Regions from separate parts of the Homo sapiens genome. Here regions 1 and 3 are each linked to region 2. The links come from fine-mapping of genetic effects on gene expression. A gene starts in region 2. Each other region holds a variant in brackets. All regions are shown on one strand. Distances are from middle to middle.

Region 1 (8,181 bases), 81 kb before region 2:
GAGGCCGAAGCGGGTGGATCACCTGAGGTCAGGAGTTCAAGACCAGCCTAGCCAACATGGTAAACCCCGTGTCTACTAAAAATACAAAAATTAGCTGGGCTTGGTGGCGTGTACCTGTAATCCTAGTACTCAGGAGGCTGAGGCAGAAGAATCGCTTGAACCCGGGAGGCGGAGGTTGCAGTGAGCCAAGATCGCGCCATTGCACTCCAGCCTGGGCGACAAGAGCAAAACTCTGTCTCAAAAAAAAAAAAAAAAAGAGAGAGAGAGAGAGACTGCTCCCATTTATTAAGTGCCCACTATGCAATGCTAGGTGCTGCATATCCTTCTGACACATTGCAAGGAAGCAGCACTAACCCCATTTTAAAGAAAGCAAAGTAAGCTCAATGTGCTTAAGTAACTGTTTCAAGGTTGCCCCAGTCACCCAAAGCTTCAGACTTGGCCCTCCTTGCGGCTCTCTCTCTCAGGAGGCAGGGTCCTGAAGTGCCCGGCCTTGCAGTAATCAGGGCAAGAGAGATGATGGTGCCCGTGGAGATGGAGAGAAGGGGACAGAGTTAAGTGGCCAGGGAGAGAATCCACTGGGTGAGGAGAGGGAAAGGGTGACCAAGCATTGTACGGTGAACATCCAGCCCAATGCCTGGGCTACTGTGCCAACACTTTCTGTGAAAATAAAAAAGTGGTCATAGATTTAGGGGTGAGATCTACCGTTTTGTAACTTACTTTGAAATACCTCCCAAAAAATAAGATGGATTGACAGATGGAGAGATATTTGATAAAGCAACTATTGCAAAATGCTAATTGTGGAATCTAAATGTTCCCTGTACAATGGTTTCAACATCTCTACATGTTGAAACTTTTCATTAAAGAAAAGTTGGGAGAGGGAGGCAATGCTTATAAAAAAAATTAAGCCCAGAAATGCCTTAAGAAACCTTCCTCAAAAAGTGTGCCAGCATCACACTGCTGCTGAGAGAGCAAATTGGTATAATTTTTCAGTGGTATCCAAGGCCCCACAAAAGGTACACATCCTTTGACCCAGCAACTTCCCGCTAGGAATTTTATCCTGAAAAACATAACTGGATAAGTTTGCAAGGGGTACAGAATGTACAAGTGAAAAAAATTAAGACTTAAGGGAGGGGACAAAAAGTCCCTGTGAAAACACCCAGGCTAAAGGACGTAGGTTAAACTCTAAGTATGGGGTAGAGTAGTCCTCTCCTAAGAGAACAGACACAGTGTAGGAATCAGGGGAGAGGGTTTCCTTTGGGTAAAAAACAAGCCTCTCTGGCCAAGAAAGGAAAGAGGCAGTGTGATTGTATGAAGTTTTCCTTTGAATATCTTGGAGAGACGCTCTTCTGCCACCAGCTGTTCCATCGCCGCCTTCCAGGTAAAATGCCTGCCAGGCCTTCCTGGAGTGCACTATCCTTTTTCCATAGATTTTCTCAAACACATCCATGGGTTCAACTCTCATCTCTTTACAGAAATGACTCCAGGCCATCTCAGACTTACTTATTTCTCCTTTTTTTTCTTTTTCTTTTTTTTTTTGAGACAGTCTCGCTCTGTCGTCCAGGCGAGAGGGCAGTGACGCGCTCTCAGCTCACTGCAGCCTCCACTCCCCAGGTTCAAGCGATTCTCGTGCCTCAGCCTCCCAGGTAGCTAGGATTACAGGCGCCCGCCATCACACCCAGCTAATTTTTGTATTTTCAATAGAGATGGGGTTTCATCATATTGGCCAGGCTGGTCTCGAACTCCTGGCCTCATGTGATCCACCTGCGTTGGCCTCCTGAAGTGCTGGGATTACAGGCGTGAGCCACCATGCCTGGCCCATACTTCTTTTTCTAAGCTCCAGGCCTGAATATTCAACAGCTCCTTCACCATCTACTTTTGTCTCATGGACACCCAATCTCAACATGCAGAACTCAGGATCTTTACCCCTCGTGCCTGTTGTTCCTCCTTCATTCCCTCCCTAAGTAAATGGCACCAGCCTCTTCCTACGTACACCTGGCACCAACCTGGGGGAGGTGCCCCAACATCACCCCTTCCCTCTCCTCACCCAATGGATTCTCTCTCTGGCCACTCAACTCTGACCCCTCCTCTCCATCTCCATGGGCACCATCGTCTCTCGTTCCCTGATTACTGCAAGATGCTCTTAATTCTTATCTCCACCAAAATGTCTTCTATAGAGCAGCCAAACTGATCTGAAAAACCCAAGTCTGATCCTGCTTTTCTCTGCTTTAAAAGACTTATCACTCCATCTCTGCTGTCCAGATGAAGCCCCAAAACCTCAACGTGACTTACAAGGCCCTCCAAGATCTGGCCCTGCTTCCTGCCACGGCCCCGTCTCTCATTCCTCGGACACTTGCTCCCGTGTTTTGGCCATTCTGGTGAAGCACAGAAGTGCTCACTGTCTCCCTATAGCCATCATTCTCCTTTCTTCAAGTGCCAGCTGGACACACAGCCACCCAGAACGAAAGCTATGTTTCCCAATCCCGCTAGCAGCTGGCAGCTTCCTGTATGAAGGGAAGGAGGTCAGTTCTTCTGCCATTTCCTTCTGACTGCTGGTTGGAATGTGGATGTAACAGGCAGCACTAGAGCAAGCCTTTGGGGCCATGAGACAGAAGCAGCATGCTGAGGAGGGCACAGCAACTGAGAAGCCACCTGGGTACTTGATGAACATGGAGCCACGGGATCAGCTCTGAACTGCTTTTTTTTTTTTAATAGGAAACAAATGTAAACTCTTTTTTTTATATAAGCCAATGTTATTTTGGGTTTTCTGACATTTGTAGCTTAACCTACCCTAATTAATGTACTTGCCTTCTTTTATTTCATCAGAAGTGCCAACCTTTGTCCCAAAGGAGCCTCTGAATAGCAAGGTTTCCTCCAGGAACACATTCCCCACCGTTTCTGTTCCTTCCCACCACCATGGCCTGACAAACTCCTGCTCATTCTACTGATCTCTCAAGGAAGCTCCCCAAACCTCCCTCACTGTGTTAGATCTGTATTTTTTCATACTCTCATGGTACTCTCCGTTTCTCTCCACAGCACTTCCTGTGATGAGATGTACATAATTATTTGTGCAATTATTGGTTTCACATCTACATGCTCCCAAAGACTGCAAACACCACGAAAGAACAGAACCCAACCACTCTGTCTGCTGCTGCCTGCCTCACCCCAGCACAGTATCTGGCACAAAACAGACACTCAATTATCGCTGAGAAATGGGGAAGAACCATGGGGTGATGCATGCTGCATGGGCTTTGTGCCAATAAGGGACTGTCTGTCTCAGACTTCCTGCTTTCACTCTTTACCTGAGAGCCAAAGCCTCACTCTTATACTAAAAGGGGCAGAAAAAAAAAACACCAACCATGAAATGAAGGAGGTGGCATTTTTGGTTGCTAAGAATCAAGTCCCAGTTGGGGCTTCCCCACCTTCAACTGTCACAGAAAGCAGGAAACACAAATCTGTTTTTGTCTTCTCTTCCCGGACACTCTTCTGGCCAATCCCCTCTCTCCAGGTGGCAGGACAATCCTCTATCTCTCCGTTGGCACACCACAGCCCCAGCCTCATCCTGCCACTTCTGGGTCAGGCCCTAGCCTTCCTGTCCCTTTCCCTCTGCCACAGCCAGCTCATGAACCTGTCTCCCATCCTTCCCCCTTGGCCTCATAGTGGTTCCTTCCGCAATCTGTCTGCACAATGCCAGGGCCAGCTCCATTCAGGAAGGCTTCCACCTGGGAACAGCATGATCCACCCCACAGGCTCTAGCACAAGTGCCTGAGTTAACACAGTGGCTCAGATTCTCACTTGACCACCATGGGGCCCGAGTATAGCACCTCCCAGCCACGAAGGCTTGGAAACCAGGAAAACATGCTCCGAAACCCCATCTGACTCATCTGCTCACTTTTGTGGTGACCTGTGAGCTCTGGAGCTGCTACTGTAGGCCCTCACCGGCAGCCTCAAAAGGCTGGGAGTGTCTCCTGTGGCCACGGCTGAAAACCCACATCCCGTCTTCCCTACGCAATCTCTTCCCTGCAGTCAAGAGCCAAGTGAGTGACATGCTCTGATGATGCTCCTTATCAGCAGCACAGCAAAAGCTGTGTTACCACGTAAGGATCAACCAGGGCGTGGACGATGACGAAAGAACACACCTGAAAGCAACAATGCTCATAAGCACACACGCGTGCTCACTTCACACCATACTCTATCATGAAAAGGCATGTTGCAGATACTTCATCCAAAGCCTCACAGAAACTCTATAACCCACTATAAGTAAACTGTTGTGAGCCACACAGAGGTAGAATGTGTATTTCAGAAAAGTGCTTCCTGGCAGTAATGTCCATATGGATTCACCTCCAGAGACAATCCTCACTGGTGCCTCCCAATCTGGATATTTCAGTTCATTCTGGGCATCTGGTATGTGACGAGTACAAGATTCCTTAAGGGTAGCTCCCAAAGAAATCTAACTTTTCCTTGGACTCAAAGTGTGAGCTGAGTTTAATCCTCCCCTGCTGGCTTACTCGAGAAATCTGATCTCAAAATCTTGCCGGGTGTCGTGTCTTGTTTGAACTGAAGTCAGGCTCTGCTCTTCTGTTTGGTACACTCTCCTCGGCCACCAGCACAGAGGCACAGCCCCCTTCACCCACAAGATGCTACTTCTACTGACAAAAATATTTACTGACCTGAAGACAGCACAAATTCAAATAAACTCTGGTGAGAAACTCCCCAGGTGGCCCAGACCACGGCCACACTGC[C/T]AAGGCCACTGCCAAACCAGCCTCCTTCACAAAGCAGGCCCCCACCGCTCGGGTGCTCAGCAGCTGGGCCACCTGAGGCCACACTGTGAAGCACATGGTGGCTCCCTGGGCCGCTGCCTTGTGTGAGAAGCTGGGGGTTAACTCTTCATATGTATGGTTACCACACCACTAGGGGCCACACATCTTGTACATGTTTCTGATTCTCACAATACCACTGTGAAGACAGTGTTAATGCCCTCATTTTAGAGTGATGGGAAACTGGAGCTCATGAGAGGCTAAGAAACACATCAGCAGGAAGTGGCAATAGGGGATTTGAACCTGGGTCTCTGAGACTCCAGCTCCAGACTTTTCCCCTGGCAGAGCACCACCTGCCTCTGCCTTGTACTTTCCAGTTCCTCGCCTCAGGACTGGGTGAACAGATGCATAGGCCAAATGTAAACATTCATTCATATCTACTAAAATAAAATAAACTGCTCGGTTCACACGTATCACCTTTGGTTGACTTAAAAGACTTCATGAACTTAATGAAACTCGTTTCTCATTTTACCAAATGCCCTCCTCCATCCTTTTCACTAATGCTTGCTTATCTGGACACATGGGAAACGTTCCTAAGATCTCGCTATAACATCAATGTCTAAATTCCCAGTTCCACTTAAAGAAAAAAATCAAATGGACTCACCCTTTCATTATGTCCTTTAGCTGCAACACAGCATTCCAATCTCAGTTACAGAACCCCCACATCCCTGCTGGCGGTGGGCCAGCTCCAAAACTCGACAGAACGCAGACAAAGCATTTGGGAACAGATGCATTTGCTGCACAGACTTTAAATTTAATCAGTGCCAAAAGAAATTACTAATATCACACCTCATGCAACATGGACAAAAATACTGGCGGGGGGGGTAATGTTTTGGAGAAGACATAGTAAGTAATTTTCACATTTAATAAATGTGATCCTCAAGCATTCTAAATACCAATGCATACCAAGTTGACACAAACATCTGGTACCTATTCCACATAATTTTCAGCACTCTGATTCCCCATATCACCCAGGGTTCTAATGAGGAGCGTGTGTTCAGCTGTAATAAAAGTGGTAAAGATGCAGAGGGAATTAAGGGGTAACATTATAGGCTGGGACCAAGACATCGCAGTGGGGAGATTTTATTCTAATGACACCATTGGCTAATAAGGTTTTTGTTATTGTCCCACAGGGAATTCTGAAATGCTGTCAGCTGCAAAGAGGGACAAACTCCCACAGATTGTGGGACTGGGTACTACAGGATCTATTCTGCCCTTGGGCTGAAAATCCTTTCTACCCCCATGGGATGCAAGAATCTGTAAGAAAGGGCACCCAGGATGATTTCTCAGCCAATAGCACTGCCTCACTTCAATCGAGCTTCATGAGAAGGAATGTTACCAACACAGGATATGACGCAAAAACAAAGCTCCAAGAAAAAAACACCTGGAATGCCCTGAGCTCACAAACACGCCTGACGTGTACATAACATATGCTCATGTTTGTACCATCTCAAATTACAATTCATTGGAACTACAGCGCCTTGGGGATGGAGCGGTGGAATGTACCACCATTAAACTCCAAAGAGGGCGCTTCTACCACAGCTCCTACCTGGGTTTTTCAACAATAAAACCTGGCTTCAGGCTGAAGCTTATCCCTAGTAGGAAAAAGGTAGACAAGTCCTAAAACTTGTAATTTGGATTTCTCAGGGGGAAAAAAACTAGATTTTTCTACAGCACAACTCTTAGGCATATCTTATCATGGTTTCTTTCACCCTCCAAGCAAAATCTACATCCAAACCTTCCTCCTAACAAACTAACCCTCTTCCAAGAAGTCAACCACCAACTTTTTGGGCCAAAAGCCAGTGCATATTTGTGTATTGTTGTGTTGAAATCATGGAGCAACCATGTTGGAGAATTTCCTGTATTCAATTGTGTTTTCAAATGTTCAAAAGGAAACAAAGGGCACAGGTTCTTTAGGAATCCAAATTCTCAAAGTGTTGGGAAGTGCCAAGCTATAAAAGGCACATACTCTTCCATCTAAACAAGATACCACTATACAATCTGGACGTGCCAACAGAGGGGGATTTCTGCAGCCCTCTGAGGAAGTGGTGCTGTTATGTTTCATGGTTTTTATGACCTGAAGTGAAGCAGTGGCATGTCTCAGAAGTCACCACTGGACATAGCAAGAGGTGTCCTTGTATTACAGAAGCACCGGGAAATAGTGAACCAGGAGATACAGGAGCTGGGTTTTAAGCATTCCATGATCTCTTATTCTATGACAGGCTTGACTTATAGATCAAATGATGCACTATATGTGAAAACGCTTTACAAACTTCAAATACTATTAGAGACATAAAGTCCCTTGAGGGGAAGAGAAATAAATGAATGAGAACATTTTCTCCAATCAAAAACTGTTTTCTCTAAAAACTTTTAGAATGATTAATAAAATATCTAAGATAAGATGTTCTTATACTACTCCCTAGCATTACTCCCCAGAAATTATTTCTATGAATTGCACTGGAAAGACTTAAAATAAAACTACAGCTGGGCATGTACTCCCTGTAATCATGCCTGTAATCCCAGCACTATGGGAGGCCAAAGCAGGAGTGCTTGAGGCCAGGACTTCAAGACCAGCCTGGGCAAAATAACCAGACCCCCATCTCTTTAAAAAAATTTTTTTAATTAAATTAAACTATGCACAGTATTAGAGTAAAAATTCCTGTTCTCTGAGCACATTCTGGAAGTACAACTCCCAAAGGCGAGAACAGGCCATGTTTCTGCCTCCAGGGAATTCCATCAATCCATAAAGACAATCAGTTGGCATCATCTTGGCCAACAGTTCTTCTGATTTACTTTGTTTGGTATTTTGTTTTGTTTTGTTTTTGGAGACACAGTCTCACTCTGTCGCCCAGGCTGGAGCACAGTGGCGCAATCTCAACTCACTGCAAATTCCGCCTCCTGGGTTCGAGTGATTCTCCTCCCTCAGCCTCCCAAGTAGCTGGAATTACAGGCATGCACCACCACACCCGGCTAATTTTTGTATTTTTAGTAGAGATGGGGTTTCACCATGTTGGCCAGGCTGGTCTCAAACCCTTGGCCTCAGGTGATCCACCTGCCTCTGCCTCAGCCTCCCAGAGTACTGGAAGTGAGTCACCACACCGAGCACTGATTTACTTTTGACCAATAATATGGTGCACCTGTCCCTATTCTTCTCACAAGAAGGAAGCTTAAACAGAAGGAGACACTGGCTACAGCATTCATTTTGGAGGGGATAAGAATTTATGGGATGTTACTGCCTAATTGGCTCAGAACAGAGACCAAGAACAAATCTGAAGGTTTGAAGGATGGGAGAAAATAAGATCTTTTTTCTCCTACCCTATGAATTTGGCAGATACAAAATAACTGAAGGATAGTACACTTCTTTATT
Region 2 (8,181 bases):
AAGAGAGAAAAATTAATTCTTTTGAGTCTTAAAAACAATGGAACAACACTTTCCTTCAAGCCAACGAAAGGCTTTCTGTAAGAAAGCCCTAAGCAACCTGAAGGCATTTTGGCCCCCAGTCATCAGAGCACTGAATAAGGACAATTAATTTGCCAAGCTCCAAGACCAGAAACCATAGCCTAGTAGGGAGTAGGAGGTTATAAGTGTTTGTTGAATTACTCGAGTAAACTAGAGCAAAGCATAGAAGACTAAATGAGATCCTAAATAAATGCCACTCTGTAGTATAAGCGCAATGCTAAGATTTAAAAAGAAGGGACTCAACTAATTTTGAAAGTTATTTTAAAATAGGATCCATGGGACCCTAACGTAGTAAATGAAATAAAGGTAAATCAATACTACATAATATGGGGCCGGGCACAGTCGCTCACGCCTATAATCCCAGCACTTTGGGAGGCCGAGGCGGGTGGATCATGAGGTCAGGAGATCAAGACCATCGGGGCTAACACAGTGAAGCCCCGTCTCTACGAAAAATATAAAAAATTAGTCGGGCGTGGTGGCATGCACCTGTGGTCCCCGCTACTCGGGAGGCTGAGGCAGGAGAATCTCTTGAACCTGGGAGGCGGAGGTTGCAGTGAGCCAAGATCACTCCACTGCACTCCAGCCTGGACGACAGAGCGAAACTTTGTCTCAAAAATAAATAAATAAATAAATAATAAAAAAATACTACATAATACGCAAGAAACAAGAAAGGAAACTGGCCTACAAAACTACAGACAAAAATTGAAAACCTTTTTTTTTTTTTTTTTTGAGACAGAACCTCGCTGTCTGCCAGGCTGGCGTGCAGTGGCACGATCTCAGCTCACTGAAACCTCCACCTCCTGGGCTCAAGGGATCCTCCCACCTCAGCCTCTGGAGTAGCTGTGATTACAGGTGTGCACCACCACGCTCAGCAAATTGTTGTATTTTCTGTAGAGATCAGGTTTCGCCATGTTGGCCAGGCTGGTCTCGAACTCCTGACCTCAAGTGATCCACCTGCCTCGGCCTCCCAACATGCTGGGATTACAGGCGTGAGCCACCACACCCAGCCAAAAACTTTTTTTAAAAGTCAAGTTTGGCCAGGCACCGTGGCTCACGCCTGTAATCCCAGCACTTTGGGAGGCTGAGGTAGGCGGATCACAAGGTCAGGAGATCGAGACCTTCCTGGCTAACACGGTGAAACCCCGTCTCTACTAAAAATACAAAAAAATTAGCCGGGCATGGTGGCGAGTGCCTGTAGTTACAGCTGCTGGGGAGGCTGAGGCAGGAGAATGGCGTGAACCTGGGAGGTGGAGCTTGCAGTGAGCTGAGATTGCACCACTGCACTCCCGCCCGGGCGACAGAGCGAGAGACTCCATCTCAAAAAATAAATAAATAAATAGATAAATGTCAAGTGTGATTTTTTCAAGCATATTCTTATTGTTTATGTTTACAAGTATGAGTATTCATAGACACATCACACTTATACTAGTATCAAATATGATACATCTGAACTACTACTATACTTGAATATTAACGTAAGCCTCTGAGGAATTCACAGTAATAGAACTGCTGTTATTTAGGATTACTGATCCCCTATTGTCTTGCACTTAGAAGATGTTAATGAAAGATGATGACAGGATTGTGAACACACCAACCTCCCTGAGAACAAATTCATTATATTCAGTTTTCTACAAAACACAAATGAGGATCATTACAAAAGGATTCACAACAAATTCCTCTGGATTTCCATTTCTCCCAGGTAAGTTGAAATATTATTCAAACCACACAAAATTAGTTTACATACAAACTTCACTTTTTAAAGAGATGGGGGTCTCACTATGTTACCCAGGCTGGTCTCGAACTCCTTGGCCAAGTGATCCTCCTACCTCAGCCTCCCAAAGTGTTGGAATTACAGGTGTGAGCCACTGTGCCTGGCCTACACACCACTTAAGGAAACAAATTGAAAAAAAACTATATGTGTGTTTATCTATCTGTCCAGCCACCATGGAGTTCTTGACATATATTCAACATACAGGCCCTGTCCTCAAGGTCATTCTTAATCAGTTCAAATTAAATCTAGTCCTCCATTATAAACTCCAAAAGCAACTTAGTTATTTTGCTAGATATTTTGCCCTCCCCTTTCAAACTATATGTTTAATACTCTAAAAACGGGTTTATGCGCCTTATAGATATCAACAGTGTGTTATGCTCCCCCTATTGACTAATATTCAAAATAACAATGAACTCCCCACGGGTTGCCTTTGAAGTGCTGGGATTCAAAACTATGTTGGTGATTTTTATATTTAAAAACATGAGCTGAATCAACAGTTGTTAGGCAAAGCTGCCGTGTAACGGTCAGATTCCATCAAAACAGGAAAAATTAAAGTTGACAAATGTCAAACTGAAGGGCCAAAAAAAAAAAACGCTCAAGCCTTGAAACACTAAACAATGCAGAAATAAAGCCAAAAGCAAAGAACAGCAAGAAATAGAGCAACATCCTTTAACTGACACAATGGCATGAAATCAATTTCATGTTAATAGCCCTTAAGGGGGTAAGAATTATTTCCCTGCCTCCTGTGCCAACCCCAAGCTGTTTCCTAAGGAAGCCAAGTAATGGTGATCAACAATGTCTGGAGAATTAATAAAAGAAATTAAGAATAAAGATCCATGTTGGCCAGGCGTGGTGGCTCACACCTGTAATCCCAGCACTTTGGGAGGCCGAGGCAGGTGGATCACGAGGTCAAGAAATCGAGACCATCCTGGCCAACATGGTGAAACGCCGTCTCTACTAAAAATACAAAAGTTAGCTGGGCGTGGTAGCGCGCGCCTGTAGTCCCAGCTACTCTGGAGGCTGAGTCAGGAGAAACTCTTGAACCCGGGAGGTGGAGGTTGCAGTGAGCCGAGATCGCACCACTGCACTGCAGCCTGGGGACAGAGCGAGACTCTGTCACCAAAAAAAAAAAAAAATTTCCATGTTAATTAATACAAGTCAGAGTTCTATTTATAATTATTTGGGGCCAGTTTCAGAGGAACTTTAATTGGGCACCCTCATAAGTATGTAAAATCGCCTAAATTCATCACAGATACCTTATGTGTGTTTCAAGAGATATGCGTTCAGCTCAAATAGAAAGCTGAAAGATGGGAGAAGATGCATGGACTATGCACACAAATCTATGTACACACAAATCGGCCTGCACTTGCCGCTCTCCGCTGAGGAAGGAAGGTAGCTTTGGAGTCAGAACTAACAGAAAGTTATGTATGATCTTGGACAAGTAACTTAACCTCTAGTGTCTTATCTGTAAAATAGGGTTATTAATAGTGCTTTTCCCATAGAGATGCTGTGAGGATTAAGTGCACACAGTATGGGCTTAGAAAACGTTAGCTGTTATTATTATCCAAAAGAAACAACTGAGTTCACACTGAAGTAACTGTTTGCACTCTGCATTCAGGAAGAAGAAACGGTCTTGACGTGTGTTTTTACTACCTGTGGAGACTTCTCCCAAACCGCTCACTTCTTCGGAAGGACATAAAACTCAGAATACGCCTGGTTCCCCAGCACAGCCTGTCACTCCTACTATCCTCTGCCCTCGCCGCTCCTATCCTGCCACCGCAGGGCTAGCGGCAAGCAGCGCTAACCTCCGTGCGGTGCTTACTCGGTGCCAAGCACTGTTGTAGCACCTCACACACATTAAATCATTAGATGCTCACAGCAACTTTACGGGGCAAGTACTACTATCCTCACTTCACAGCTAGGGAAATGGAACGGTTTTCTTCTTCCAGCTTTTCGTGAGGACACCAAATCCACTAAGTTCTACTTTGCCAAGGTAATTCATGCTTGACACGTCGGCTCCTGACACTATGCGATTCTGCAAAGCGGGGCAAATGCCCTAATAAGATCAAGTCTGCAAGCAGATTCTTCTAGCGACAGTCCAAGATTTCCAAGTTTGTCCTAACCAAATGAATACAAGAAGAGAGCCTTCAAAATAAACCGGGGCGGGGGGGGGCCGAGCTGCAGCTTGCGGCTCAGCCCGCAAGGCACCCTGAGGGCGCGGCCAGCGGGGAACGCAAACCGCGTCCGTGCACGAGTCCGGGAGCCACAGCCTGGGCCACGGCAATTGACTGCGAACCCACAACAAACCATTCCCACCGAAGCTGTCACGCGCCCGGAGGGAAGTGGCCGCCGCGCCCCGCAGGGGTCAGAAGGACCCGCGGAGAGGAAGAGTGAGGGCGGGCGTGGAGAATTCCTCCCCAGCACTGCGCATCGCCGGGGGCACTGCCTGCCCCGTGCGGCCGCTGCCCACGCACCGCTGGCCACCGGTGCCTGCTCCCCGGAGGGTAAACACCGCCCCACCAGCGCCTCCCTCCCAAGGCCGGAGGTCCTGGCGGCTGGAGCGACCCTGGCCGGTAAGTAGGCACTGGCAGCCCGCGCCGCGCCGACGGGCACCCGCGCAGCCTGCAGAGCCCACAGCCCGGGCGGGCTGCAGCGCCGCGGGGCTGGGCCGGCACGTACCTCGGAGGCGGTGTGTCCAGCGGAGATCCACCCGCAGCAAGTTGGAGGAAAGCGGCGGCAAGTTTCCCCGCCCAGCGCTCGGCGGCGGCGAGCTCCGGCAGCTGCTGCGCCGCGGCAAAACTACGCCATCCGGACCCGCTGGGGACTCTCACCTCCTGCAGGGAGCTCCGGGAATCGCGCAGGGAAAGTGGCCGGGGCGCGAGAGCCGCCGACTGCCCTCCTTCACTCGCTGGGAAGAGGAAAGTGCCGCTCGGCGTCCCCGAAACCCTCGATTACCCCCATCAGGCCGACCCGGCGCACTCGCCCTCCCTCGCACACACGCGGGCGGGGACGGGCAGGACGCCACAGCAATCAGCGCGCGGGGGGAAGGGCGCTCCTCCGCCGGCCCCACCGGGGGCTCTCGGCCGCCCAGAAACTCCTCCTCCCGCCTCCCGCCTCCCGCCTCCTCTCTCCTCCCCCTTTGCCTCCGCGGCTGATGGATGAGCCCCGAATGCTGCTCGAGCCTGTGCTTCCCTTCGGGACGAGGAGGCCGAGAGAGAAGGGGCTAGGGGCGCGGCCGGGCTCAGCGTGCCCGGGTTGGGGCGGCCCCTGTCCTGGGGGAAGCGCGAGGGAGACGTGGGCACGAGCTGCGGGGACTCGCTCCCTCAAACGAGGTCCTTTGAACTTTCCAGGGCTCCCTGGAAGAGTTGGATTTTCATTTGGTTCCTTGGTCTTTATATAAAAGTTCTGAAACCTCAGATAATCTGATCACAGCCTCTTGCCCTCTCCCCAGCAGAGCTCCCCCATGCACACATTCATTCTGTCCCTGTGCTTTTTCCCAACCTCCGGTCCCGCTTGTTGTCACGCTCTGATGGTGGGCGCCGGCGGAGTCTTGCCTCTTCCCCTCCAGCAGCTGAGACTGCATTACCCAGCCGTTCCCCCTGCTAGCTAAATAAATTAATACAAATAATGGAGCTAGGTCAGCATTACCGGCGTTACCCGGAGGTGGGCGCGATATGAACGACAGTCTCGGCGGGGCAACGTCCTAAGTACCTGTGCCTGTGCGACGTCCTAAGTACCTGTGCCTGTGAAGTACACGCTGCAGAAGTTGAACTGCTGGCACCAGAACACCACTCTGATACTCTTGCTTACACCCAGTTTTTCTTATTAAAAAGTATACTTAAGTAACAGGACATTGTTTTACAAACAGGCAGGTGAAATGACCGTGGACTGACAGGTTTCAAAGACCAGACTTCCAGTCCTGACTACTGTGCGACCTTCCACAAATGGCTAACGGCTAATACCCGTCAAGGCTCAGTTCAAATGAAGGGCTTGGCCTAGAAGGCTTCTTCCAGTTCTAAAGGGCTATGGACCTATGCCTTTTTTTTTTTTTTTTTTTTTTTTTTTGAGATGGAGTCTCGCCCTGTCGCCCAGGCTGGAGTGCAGTGGCACAATCTCAATCTCAGCTCGCTACAACCTCCGCTTCTCAGGCTCAAGCGATTCTCCCACCTCAGCCTCCTGAGTAGCTGGGATTACTGACAAATGCCACCACGCCCAGCTAACTTTTTGTATTTTTTGTAGAGGGGGTTGGCAGGGCGGGGGTCTCACTTAGTTGCCCAGGCTGGTCTCAAACTCCTGAGCTCAAGAGATTCGCCTGCCTTGGCCTCCCAAAGTGCTGGGATTAGAGGCGTTAGCCGCTGCACCTGGCTCAATCCTAGGCTTTTAATATGTTGGAGAGTAGAATGAGGAGGCTTCTTATGACATGTTATTTGGAAAGTTATTGAGAGAACAGGAAATATTTCTCGTCCTCTTCCTCTTGTACCTATAGGCAGAGAATCCACCCAATTGCAGAATTGGAGATTCATTCACAAAGGTCAAATGTCATCAGTCACCTGAATTACTGCAAAAATCTCCTCACTGAACCATTTTTTTCCTTACCAATATTCATTGAGCACTGACTATGGGAGAGCCCTGAGTCAGGCATTGGGAATACAAGTAGGCATAATATTCTGAAGGAATAAACAGTCCAGATGGAGCTAGCCTCTGCTTTTATAAAGTCTAAGTTTAAGGCCTTAAGATTTCTCCTAGACTCAAATTAAACAGTATTTGATATGGTTTGGCTGTGTCCCCACCCAAATCTCATCTCGAATTGTAAGTCCCACAATCCCCATGTGTCCTAGGAGGAACCCAATGGGAGGTAATTGAATCTTGGGGATGAGTTTTTCCTGTGCTGTTCTCATGATAGTGAATAAGTCTCACGAGATCTGATGGCTTTAAAAACAGGAGTCTCCGTGTACCAGCTCTCTCTGCCTGCTGCCATCCACGTGATATGTGACTTGCTCCTCCTTACCTTCTGCCATGATTGTGAGGTCTCCCCAGCCATGTGGAACTGTAAGTCCAATAAACCTTTCCTTTGTAAATTGCCCAGTCTCGGGTATGTCTTTATCAGCAGCATGAAAACAGACTAATACAGTATTTATGCCTTGTTAACAAGTTTTAGTTTCAAGTACAGATGTGAACACTTGAACTAGGTGTGAATATTTAATCCCACATTTAAATGCATCGGCCAGGTGAGGTGGCTCATGCCTATAATCTCAGCAATTTGGGAAGCCGAGGTGGGTGGATCACTTGAGGTCAGGAGTTCTAGACCAGCCTGACCAACATGGTGAAACCCCATCTCAACTAAAATACAAAAATTAGCCAGGCATGGTGGCGGGCACCTGTAATCCCAGCTACTTGGGAGGCTGAGGCAAGAGAATCGTTTGAACCCAGGAGGCAGAGGTTGCAGTGAGCTGAGATGGTGCCATTGCACTCTAGCCTGGACAAGAGCAACACTCTGTCTCAAAAAAATAAAATTAAATTAAATGTATCAATCATGTTAAGGCCTTCTAAATAAAATGGCCTGGTAGATAATTTAGGAGTGTCTTGTCTTTAAAGAGTGATGAAGTGACTGGTCCCCGTAGAGCCAGATTCACAACAGTAACCATCAACATCTGAGCCAGCGTGGGTACTGAATTCTTTTTTGTTTGTTTGTTTTTGTTTTGAGACAGAGTCTCGCTCTGCTGCCGAGGCTGGAGTGCAGTGGCGCAATCTCAGCTCACTGCAACCTCTGCCTCCTGGGCTCAAGCAATTCTCCTGCCTCAGCCTCCTGAGTAGCTGGGATTGACAAGCACGCACCACCATGCCTGGCTAATTTTTGTATTTTTAGTAGAGACGGGGTTTCATACCATGTTGGCCAGGCTGCTCTCGAACTCCTGACCTCAAGTGATCCACCCGCCTTGGCCTCCCAAACTGCTGAGATTACAGGCATGAGCCACTGCGCCTGGCCATGGGTACTAAATTCTATACATATAAACACATTTACTTCTCACAGCCCTCTAAGAATATGTATAAATGAGGCCGATATACATGCCTTTATACAAACTGAGATCTTGTCCACGATTCAATCTCACATCCACCGACCTCAAAACCTGTCCACGATTCAATCTCACATCCACCGACCTCAAAACCTAAGTCCTTAACCACCAGGTTCTTCTACCTGTCATCAGAAGCTTTATAGACTGGCAAAATAAAAGGGCTCTTTTTTTTAATTCTGAGCTATTTAGTTTCAGTAGATGATATGGAAAAACACAAGAAATTACATCAGTATTTACAAAATTAACAATGTCTACAGA
Region 3 (8,181 bases), 200 kb before region 2:
AGTATGATTAAATTTTGTGATATTTGCTGAGAATGCCATTATAGTTCCAGGAGTGGTATATACAAAATTGTCAAATTGGGGGGACACAGGATTCTATGTATGGATCTTAATCAAGCTTAATTACATTGTTCAAATCTTCCATATCCAAATATTTTTGACTTGTCAACTTCTGAGAGTGATATGTTAAAATATCCTACTGTGATGAATTTGTCAGTTCCTCTTTTTCCTCTTTATAATTTTTATAATTCTGTCACTTTTTTTTTTTTTTTTGCTTTAAAGCATTGGAGTGTGAGAACATAATATATAAGGATATTAACTGCAGCAGAATATCTTGGCAAAAAACTAAAATGTCATTACTAGTGAATTGGCTGAATTCATTGTAAAAAATATTATGCAGCCACCAAAAAACATGAAATTTGTTCCGTATCTAATAATCTACAGGAGGTCGATGTTAAGTGAAAAAGGCAAGTTGCAGAGTATGTATATTGTGATCCCATTTTTAGTAAACGAAACAAAAACTTCTATATTCATGAACACGTTTCAATATGTTTGAGTTTGAAAAAAGGCTGTTAACATCAGCTCCTCTAGGTAAGTGACTGGAGGGAGTAGGAAGGGTAGCGTTAACAAATATCTTTGTATTTCACTTCCTATGAGAACCATATTTTTATTTGGGCAATTTAAGTTAAGCCTAATAAGAAAATGATGATGATCAGCAGTCATCTTAGGAGCCCTGAGAAAGATATGCCATATGAAAAAAGCAAGTCACAGGCTGGGCGTGGTGGCTCACGCCTGTAATCCCAGCACTTTGGGAGGCCGAGATGGGTGGATCACTTGAAGTTAGGAGTTCGAGACCAGCCTGGCCAACATGGTGAAACCTTTTCTCTACTAAAAATATAAAAATTTGCCTTGGGTTTAGTAGAAACCCCATCTCTACTGAAAATATAAAAATTAGCTTTGGGTGACACAATGAGACCCTGTCTCAAAAAAAAAAAAAAAAAAAAGAAAAAAGAAAAAAGCAAGTCACAACTGTTATAATCCAATTTTTTTTTTTTTTTTTTTTTGAGACAGGGCCTTCCTCTGTCACCCAGGCTGGAGTGCGGTGACATGATCTCAACTCACTGGAATCTCCACCTCCTGGGTTCAAAGATTCTCGTGTCTCAGCCTTCTGAGTAGCTGGGATACAGACGCATGCCACCCCGCCCCGCTAATTTTTGTATTTTTAGTAGAGACAGGGTTTCACTATGTTGGCCAGGCTGGTCTCGAACTCCTTACCCCAAGTGATCCACCCACCTTGGCCTCCCAAAGTACTGGGATTACAGGCATGAGCCACTGCACCGGGCCATAATCCAATCTTATTTAATGACATGGACATGTTGATATGAATTAAGGAAACATCTGGGAACACATACACTAAATCGGTATTCTTATATTCAAGTTGGAGGATTATGGAGGCCTTTTCATTGCTACATGTCTGTATTCTTTGCATTCATTTTATATATATATATTGTGTGAACAAGAAAGATAATTTTTTCTTACAAAAAGCCTATGGACTCTCACCAAAAACAACAGCCGAGACATAGCTGCAATAAAATCCTACATACAATTCCAGCCACTTCACAGACTCTCTGAAGCCCATTTATTAATCACCCAGGTTTTGACTCCAGTAGACACAAGGAGAGTTTAATGGCAAAAAAAATTCATTGACCTGCCAATTACTCCCACATATCCTAAGAGGAGCTGGTTGCAGGGGGCACCGTAGCTGTAAAATGGAGCTTAACACTGTTCCGGCTCTGTGGGTACCCACCTGTGTAACATGTGAGGGATGGGCTGCTGGCCTTGATGCCAAATCATCTGAGTCACTAAAAATCTCAAAAGGGGAGTGTGGCCTGTAAATGCATATTCAATGCTGTAATGTAATATTTGATACTGAACGAGAACTTTTTTCATTACAAATTTGTCTGGGGGTGAGGATGCCAAATAGAACTGAGCTCCGGAGAGGTGAGAGAAGTAGCTGGGAAAGCAGGCAGATTAGCCTCCTCGGAACCATGCTTAGGAATCTGAACTGTATCCTGAAGGCAAATGGGGCAATTACCTAAAGGCCTCAAAATGGAGTCTTTTTAGGATTACTTTGGCTGCATGGTGGAGAAAGAATTGAAGGGAGCAAAATGGAAAGTCGGCATACCAGTTAGGAGGCTGCTGCAGTGACTCAAGAGACAATGGCTCTTGAGCAGTGTGTAACAACAGTCAGAGTAGGAATAAGTCAGTGGTTTGAAGAAAGAGACATTTTAGAGGTAGAATAACACTCGGACTTATTGATTTGGGAAGAGGGGAGCCAAAGAGGCTGTAGTTAGATTCCCAGGTTTCTGGCTTGGACAACTGGAAGACGGTGGTACCATATGGAGATACGGAATGCTGGAAGCAGCAATGGGGTATTTGAAGGGGCTGAAAATAGTAGACCTTAAATGTATATTATGTTTCTTTCTTTGACTCTGGGAGATTGACAGAAGGCCCAGGAATGGTTTCCAGGGTGAGACACCCACTTCCAAGTCTCCTGCCATGTTTTTCTGAGAAGAGCGACAGCTCCTGCTGCACTCTTCTTCTAGTCCATCCGCCCTTCCCTCTGCTCTGGACCTCTTAGCCTTTCTCCTCCCACTTCCTCATCAACACGGAGCAGACGATCCATTCAGGAGAAAGTCACAGTGAAAAAAGTTACATGAGCCTTAGGGTAGAATTTAATGATAACAAGACACATATTAATAACTGATATATATCTTTTTATTATGCACAGATAAAAGATTTAAAACTGTGGTTATCAAAACTATACATCTAAGCATCTTCACAAAATAGCTGACACACTGAACAGAGAAAAGAATACAACAGGGGTGTTCAAACTGGCCACAGGGATTTTAAGGGTACTCGTTTTACCCTCATAGATGATGAAAACCAGCAACAAAATCAGGCTCATTCAGGAAAAACCAGAAGAGAGAAGTATTGTATTTGGAAACTGATAATAGTCCTTTTTAGAAAAACATCTGTCAGTTTCATGAACAACCCCCAGATAAAACAAACATGAAAAAAATCACATAGGACTCACCCAACAAAATGTGCTCTGTTAACACAACCAGCAGTACAATCATCATTCAAACCATGAGGTAGTTACAGTACAAAAAGACTGGCACGCGTGTGAGCACCCCACACACACTCACAATCATGCCCACTAAGAACACAAGCAGGAAATGGATTTACAATCTTATTACAAGGCAAAGAAAAAAACCATTTTTTTTGTTTAGAAAATGCTATAGAAACAGTTTAGACAGAAGAAATCTCTGGCTTTTTAAAATACAGAGTAACAGCTGGTAAACACCACATGGTGAAAAGCTATAGCGTATTATACAGACAATCTGCCTTGGAGTTTGGGGCATTTTAACAACAGCTTCAGCATCAAACAAACAACAAAATGGCCTCTGCAAATTAAGGGTGTAGCCTGCAGAAATAACAAAAGACTGCAGATACAAGAGTTCAGCTGAAATACAACAATACTTTTAAAGAAACTTGTAGTACACGTTATAAAAGTAGAGCTTGTACTTTGTATTAAAACTGTAAAGTGTGAAGCAATTAGAAATACTGTAATGAGAAGCTAGGGAGAAAATACCTTATTTTTTTCATGTTCATTTTTTAGAAACATTTCAGAAATACTTAACGACATTCACTCTCCAATATGAGATTAGGTTTTATCGACACAGATTTCTTGATCTGAATAATAATTCTGACAATGAGACCCAAACAAATAAAAGGTGATTTTTTTCCTCTCTCTCTCTTTTAAAAAGATCTTTTGGTTTGCATCTATAAATTTGTAAATTAATTTTAAATTATTTATAAAATCATTGGCAATGTAGCATCTCTCTTAAAAATATATATTTAAATATATTACAGAAGGTTTTAACCCTGTCCTTCTAAGACATCAATCTTTTAATATCTCCTAATAGCTAATTTTCTTTTTAACACGATGGAAAAGATTTTTTAAAAAAGCAAAGGACTGATCGAAAGAATTCACAGTAGCTGAAATTAAACATTTCATATGGAGTAACTTAAATTTATCTAAAACACTTAAATATATCTTTATACACAAATTTTGTAGTAAAATATAGCTATAAGTGACTTAAAGACTCTAGTCTTCTTTGAAGACATCTTTAAACTTTTTTATACATAGAATATGCTGAAACAATACATTCCACCGAAGGTTAGGCAAAGCGCAATATTTTCAAACACAGGTAGCGTAATCTAGGTCCTCCACTCTGATACCCTTCTGTTAAAAAAAAATTAAAGGAAAAAAATTCTCTAAACTCATGTCTTCTTCGTTTGTATATGGAAATCTAGAAATTTTTCAGTAGATCAATGTAGATAGCCTGGAAATCTCAGCCCTAAAGTAATGTTTTAGTTAAAATGTTCCTTATTGAAAAAAAAAAATGTTCCTTATTGAATGTGTATATCTATCAGGTAAGTCATATTATTACTCAACGATTTGGTAAAAATGATTGTCAATTTCCACATACTTGTTTCCCATGTAGACACTGCCCTAAGGTTTTAAGCTTCATCAGGATTACCTACTGAGGTTCCATTCACAGACAACCAGGCATAACTTCCTTATTTTAAGGGCAGTGGGATTTGCTTATGAATATTTTGGGGGTAGAATCTATCTTGTTCTACTTATGGAATTCTAAGTTGTTTGGGGGAAATTCTGGAAAAAGAATAATTTGCAATGAAGCTATCTTCAGCAGTAAAATAATTTAGCATGATAATTCCCCCCTGGCATTCTTTTTTTTTTTTTTTTTTTT[T/TTA]AACAAGGAGGTATCACTGAGCTTATTTTAGCTGCAAAGTGGCATCATATTATTCCATTTAATGAAATTCACCTCAAGCCCTTTTTGACATATTAAATATATGGGATATATTTAAGGCAAGAGAAGTAAGGCAATCCAAATGAGTGCCCTTTTCCAATCTCAGCACTGTCTTGGTGGAATTGGTGACACTATTCAGATAACCAACTGGAGACCGACAGGATTTGCCATGCATTTGCATCTTGCTACAGTTTGGTTTTTATGAAAGGGCCTATTTTTTTTTAAGTTGACATATTTTGAGTGGAAACACTCACCCTACCAAATATACTTAAGTTGCAACTCTAAAAGCATAAGGACATTTTCAAATTTTCTCTTCTTCAACTGAGAAAATGAATGTGCCAGGTGACATATTATATACTTGTACTTGCATACACATAGAAATATATCACTGTGCAAATTCGTCCTTGACTTTATAACTGAATTTCACCTCAAATTATACATTAATTTGCAGAACAAAATATTAGGAATGGGCACAAATCTGTGGTTCCTGATTTTGGTCATTTTCAATTTCTGTAGGCCTGTAAGAAATACAAAATTTGCATTAAGACATTTTGCAGTGGTGTATGCAAGTATGGGAAGAAACAGGAAGCTGATAAGGTCATCAGCATTGGTTTTGGCCCAGGGCACAAGAAAGGAATGTTGCCTTAACACTTGTCAGGGTGCAGTCCCTGAGGGCAGCACCCATCAAGGGACACATCAGACCCCACAGGTTGTGGCAGCAAGGTCAGAAGTGTGCATCCAGACAAAGGTGCAAATTAGACAGGAGGATCGCTTAGAAAGCCTCAAAGCATTTCTTGTTTTACATCTTGGTTCAGATATAAAGAATCTTTGGCCGCATCTCCTCACTGGTTCTACTATCTGGCTATTAACCCTTTACCAACTCCTTGAGTCTGGGTAAAACTCAGGGCCCCAAATTATGGATGTTCTCACCTGGACAAAGCAGCATTTTAAAAACTGGCATGTGTTTCACATTGAAAACCCCCAAGCCTGTGAGGGGCTGGTGGAGAAGACCACCATTTTAGCTTTCTCACATGAATTCTAGTGTGGTACAGAAGCCCAGGGTCATGTTTATACTAGCCCTGGGTGTGGGGTGAATACAACGGGTGATCTTTATACTGAAATTCACTCTGTCTTTACAAGGGAACCAAAATCCAGCCCTCTGAGTCTGGACACGAGGCTCAGCCATTGGTCCTGCCCTTGGCAGTAGCTGAGCTGAGCTGGGCTGGGCTGGGTTGGGCCGGGTTGGGCTGGGTTGGGCTAGGCCGTGCTGCTGCTGGAGCAAGGCGTGCTCTGCGTGCTGCCGATGCTGTGGGCAGCACTGCTGTTTTCCGAGGCTGGCGGGGAGGTGGGGACTTGCTGCCTTCCTGCTGTCTCCCCTGCAGTTAATAAAGAAAAGGCAGAGTCAGAGAAAGACGCATATTATGTATGTGCATTCCTGAAAAGATCATTTATTCCGCATTTGCCATTTTAACTGATATTTTTCTCAACCAGGGCAGAAGCAACTAGACTAGGTCCTAGATGGCTGGAATACCTTCTAAAATAAGGTTTTGCTATTTGTTGTTTTATTTTTAAAGCATCATGAATGGGAAAAAGAAGACAGCTGACTGACAGGCAGCTCTAGTGGCTAAGACCCCTGAGAGTTGATGACAAAGTCCCTGGATTTCAGGGTCCACAACCTTTGATGAAATCACCACCACTTGGTCTGTGTGAGCTGGCAACTGACCAGCACCTGTATTCAGGAAACACTGTCCATCTTCTCTCATAAAGACACTGTAGGATTTGGAGGGTGTGACCTTTCAATTGTAGTTAAGAGAACCCTGGAAGTTTGGGAGCCTTGTTCTGAATGCACTTGTTAAAAACAGGAGTGAAATATAGACTTTGTCCTAGCTACAGTAGAGAGAGCCTTGTGTGCCAAACAGATAAATTACCTGAGAAACCGGGGTGGGGGATAGCTGCTATTGGAAAAACCTTTTGGGGAAGGGGTTTAGCTGTTTGCACATGGGGACTGCAGTTGCCAGCGAATGGCCTCTCTTCCCCACTGAGGTTCCCTGTGGGGTGCAGTGTGAGTATCTCCTAACACTTTAAGCATCCCACTTTTCATTACACACCCCACTGCATTTTAGCTAAAGCCATTCATCGTGCCAAATGTGCAGTGCTTTGGAGAGGAAGGAAACCTCAAGTCACACACATGGTTTGCATTTAACAGTGCAAAAGGCCCTAGAGTTAGTCTTCTCTTCGGCAAAACCGGCCTCAGTGCAACCCTCAAAAAATGGCTCTAGGTAGGGAAAAGCGATCAGGGCTCTCCAATAAAAAACACTGCATTTACTTTGAAAAGTCAGAGCATAAACTTCATAAACTTCTTGTAAGCAGCATCCCCTCCTTCAATGTGGGAAACCCCAGAGGGCCAGGCCTGTTTATGAATGAGCCTCCTCTTTCCTGTCATGCTGAAATACACATCTATCAGCCGGAGATAAGCAACCCTTCCAGCTGCTTCATTAAAACAAAACACTCGAGGAAAGGCCCTGCCCTCCAGTGCAGGAACTTGGCCCCATTACTTCCATTCTCTTTCTGGGGCCCCTCAAAAGCCTCTGTGAAAAAAGCAGTTCTGCAAAATGTAGAACTGGCTCATGTCCCTGGGTCTGGTTACAGCTTTTCCTGTCACCCCTTTCATGAACCACACAGCTATACACACTTTTGCATCAACCTCAAAGTATTTATGTGCTTGTTGTAAGTTTGGCCCTTGTTGTACTTCCTCTAATTATCTTTTCTTCTGGGATTGGCGGGATGGATAGGGGACTGGGGTCAATATTCCTGAGAAGCGGAGAAGCACTGCCTTTTTTTTTTTTTTTTTTTTTTTGTGAGACGGAGTCTCGCTCTGTCCCCTAGGATGGACTGCAGTGGCATGATCTTGGCTCACTGCAACCTCCACCCCCCGGGTTCAAGCAATTCTCCTGTCTCAGCCTCCCGAGTACCTGGGACTACAGGCATGTGCCACCATGCCTGGCTAATTTTTTGTATTTTTAGTAGAGACACGATTTCACTGTGTTAGCCAGGATGGTATCGATCTCCTGACCTCGTGATCGGCCCACCTTGGCCTTCCATAGTGCTGGGATTACAGGCGTGAGCCACCACGCCCGGCTGAAACACTGCTTTTGACTTTTTTGGAAACCTATGTTTTGGACCCTCCCCAGCACTGCCCTCTACTCTTCATGTGTGTGTATAATTAAGGCTGGGGAAATTAGCCTCCATGGCAATAACTTTCTGCCAAAAATTCACTTTCCCCAGAGTA

Direction of the effects. Positions count from the first base shown, and alleles are read on the strand shown. Sizes are in standard deviations (SD) of each study's normalised expression. Not every link is listed here.
In carriers of allele C in region 1, the expression in pancreas of the gene that starts at base 4,802 in region 2 tends to be higher than with T alone (moderate effect, 0.53 SD a copy in GTEx).

The links.
Region 1: its variant is fine-mapped to the expression of TGFBR3 in pancreas (GTEx, PIP above 0.99).
Region 3: its variant is fine-mapped to the expression of TGFBR3 in whole blood (INTERVAL, PIP above 0.99).

The regions. Positions count from the first base shown.
Region 1 is chr1:91,800,845-91,809,025 of GRCh38, forward strand. The region is part of intron 2 of TGFBR3 (transforming growth factor beta receptor 3); the gene reads right to left. Among named protein-coding and RNA genes, the nearest start is that of TGFBR3, 81 kb to the right of the region's middle. RefSeq lists an enhancer at 2,922-3,191. The variant C/T (reference allele first, on the strand shown) is at 4,740.
Region 2 is chr1:91,881,350-91,889,530 of GRCh38, forward strand. TGFBR3 (transforming growth factor beta receptor 3) reads right to left here and starts at 4,802. Exons shown (of 17, transcript NM_003243.5): 1 at 4,529-4,802. RefSeq lists enhancers at 3,610-4,373, 4,374-5,136 and silencers at 4,279-4,488, 4,499-4,578, 4,929-5,068.
Region 3 is chr1:91,677,590-91,685,770 of GRCh38, forward strand. TGFBR3 (transforming growth factor beta receptor 3) reads right to left here. Exons shown (of 17, transcript NM_003243.5): 17 at 2,754-6,268. The coding sequence ends at 6,150. Among named protein-coding and RNA genes, the nearest start is that of CDC7, 180 kb to the left of the region's middle. RefSeq lists enhancers at 6,167-6,670, 7,150-7,229. The variant T/TTA (reference allele first, on the strand shown) is at 4,836.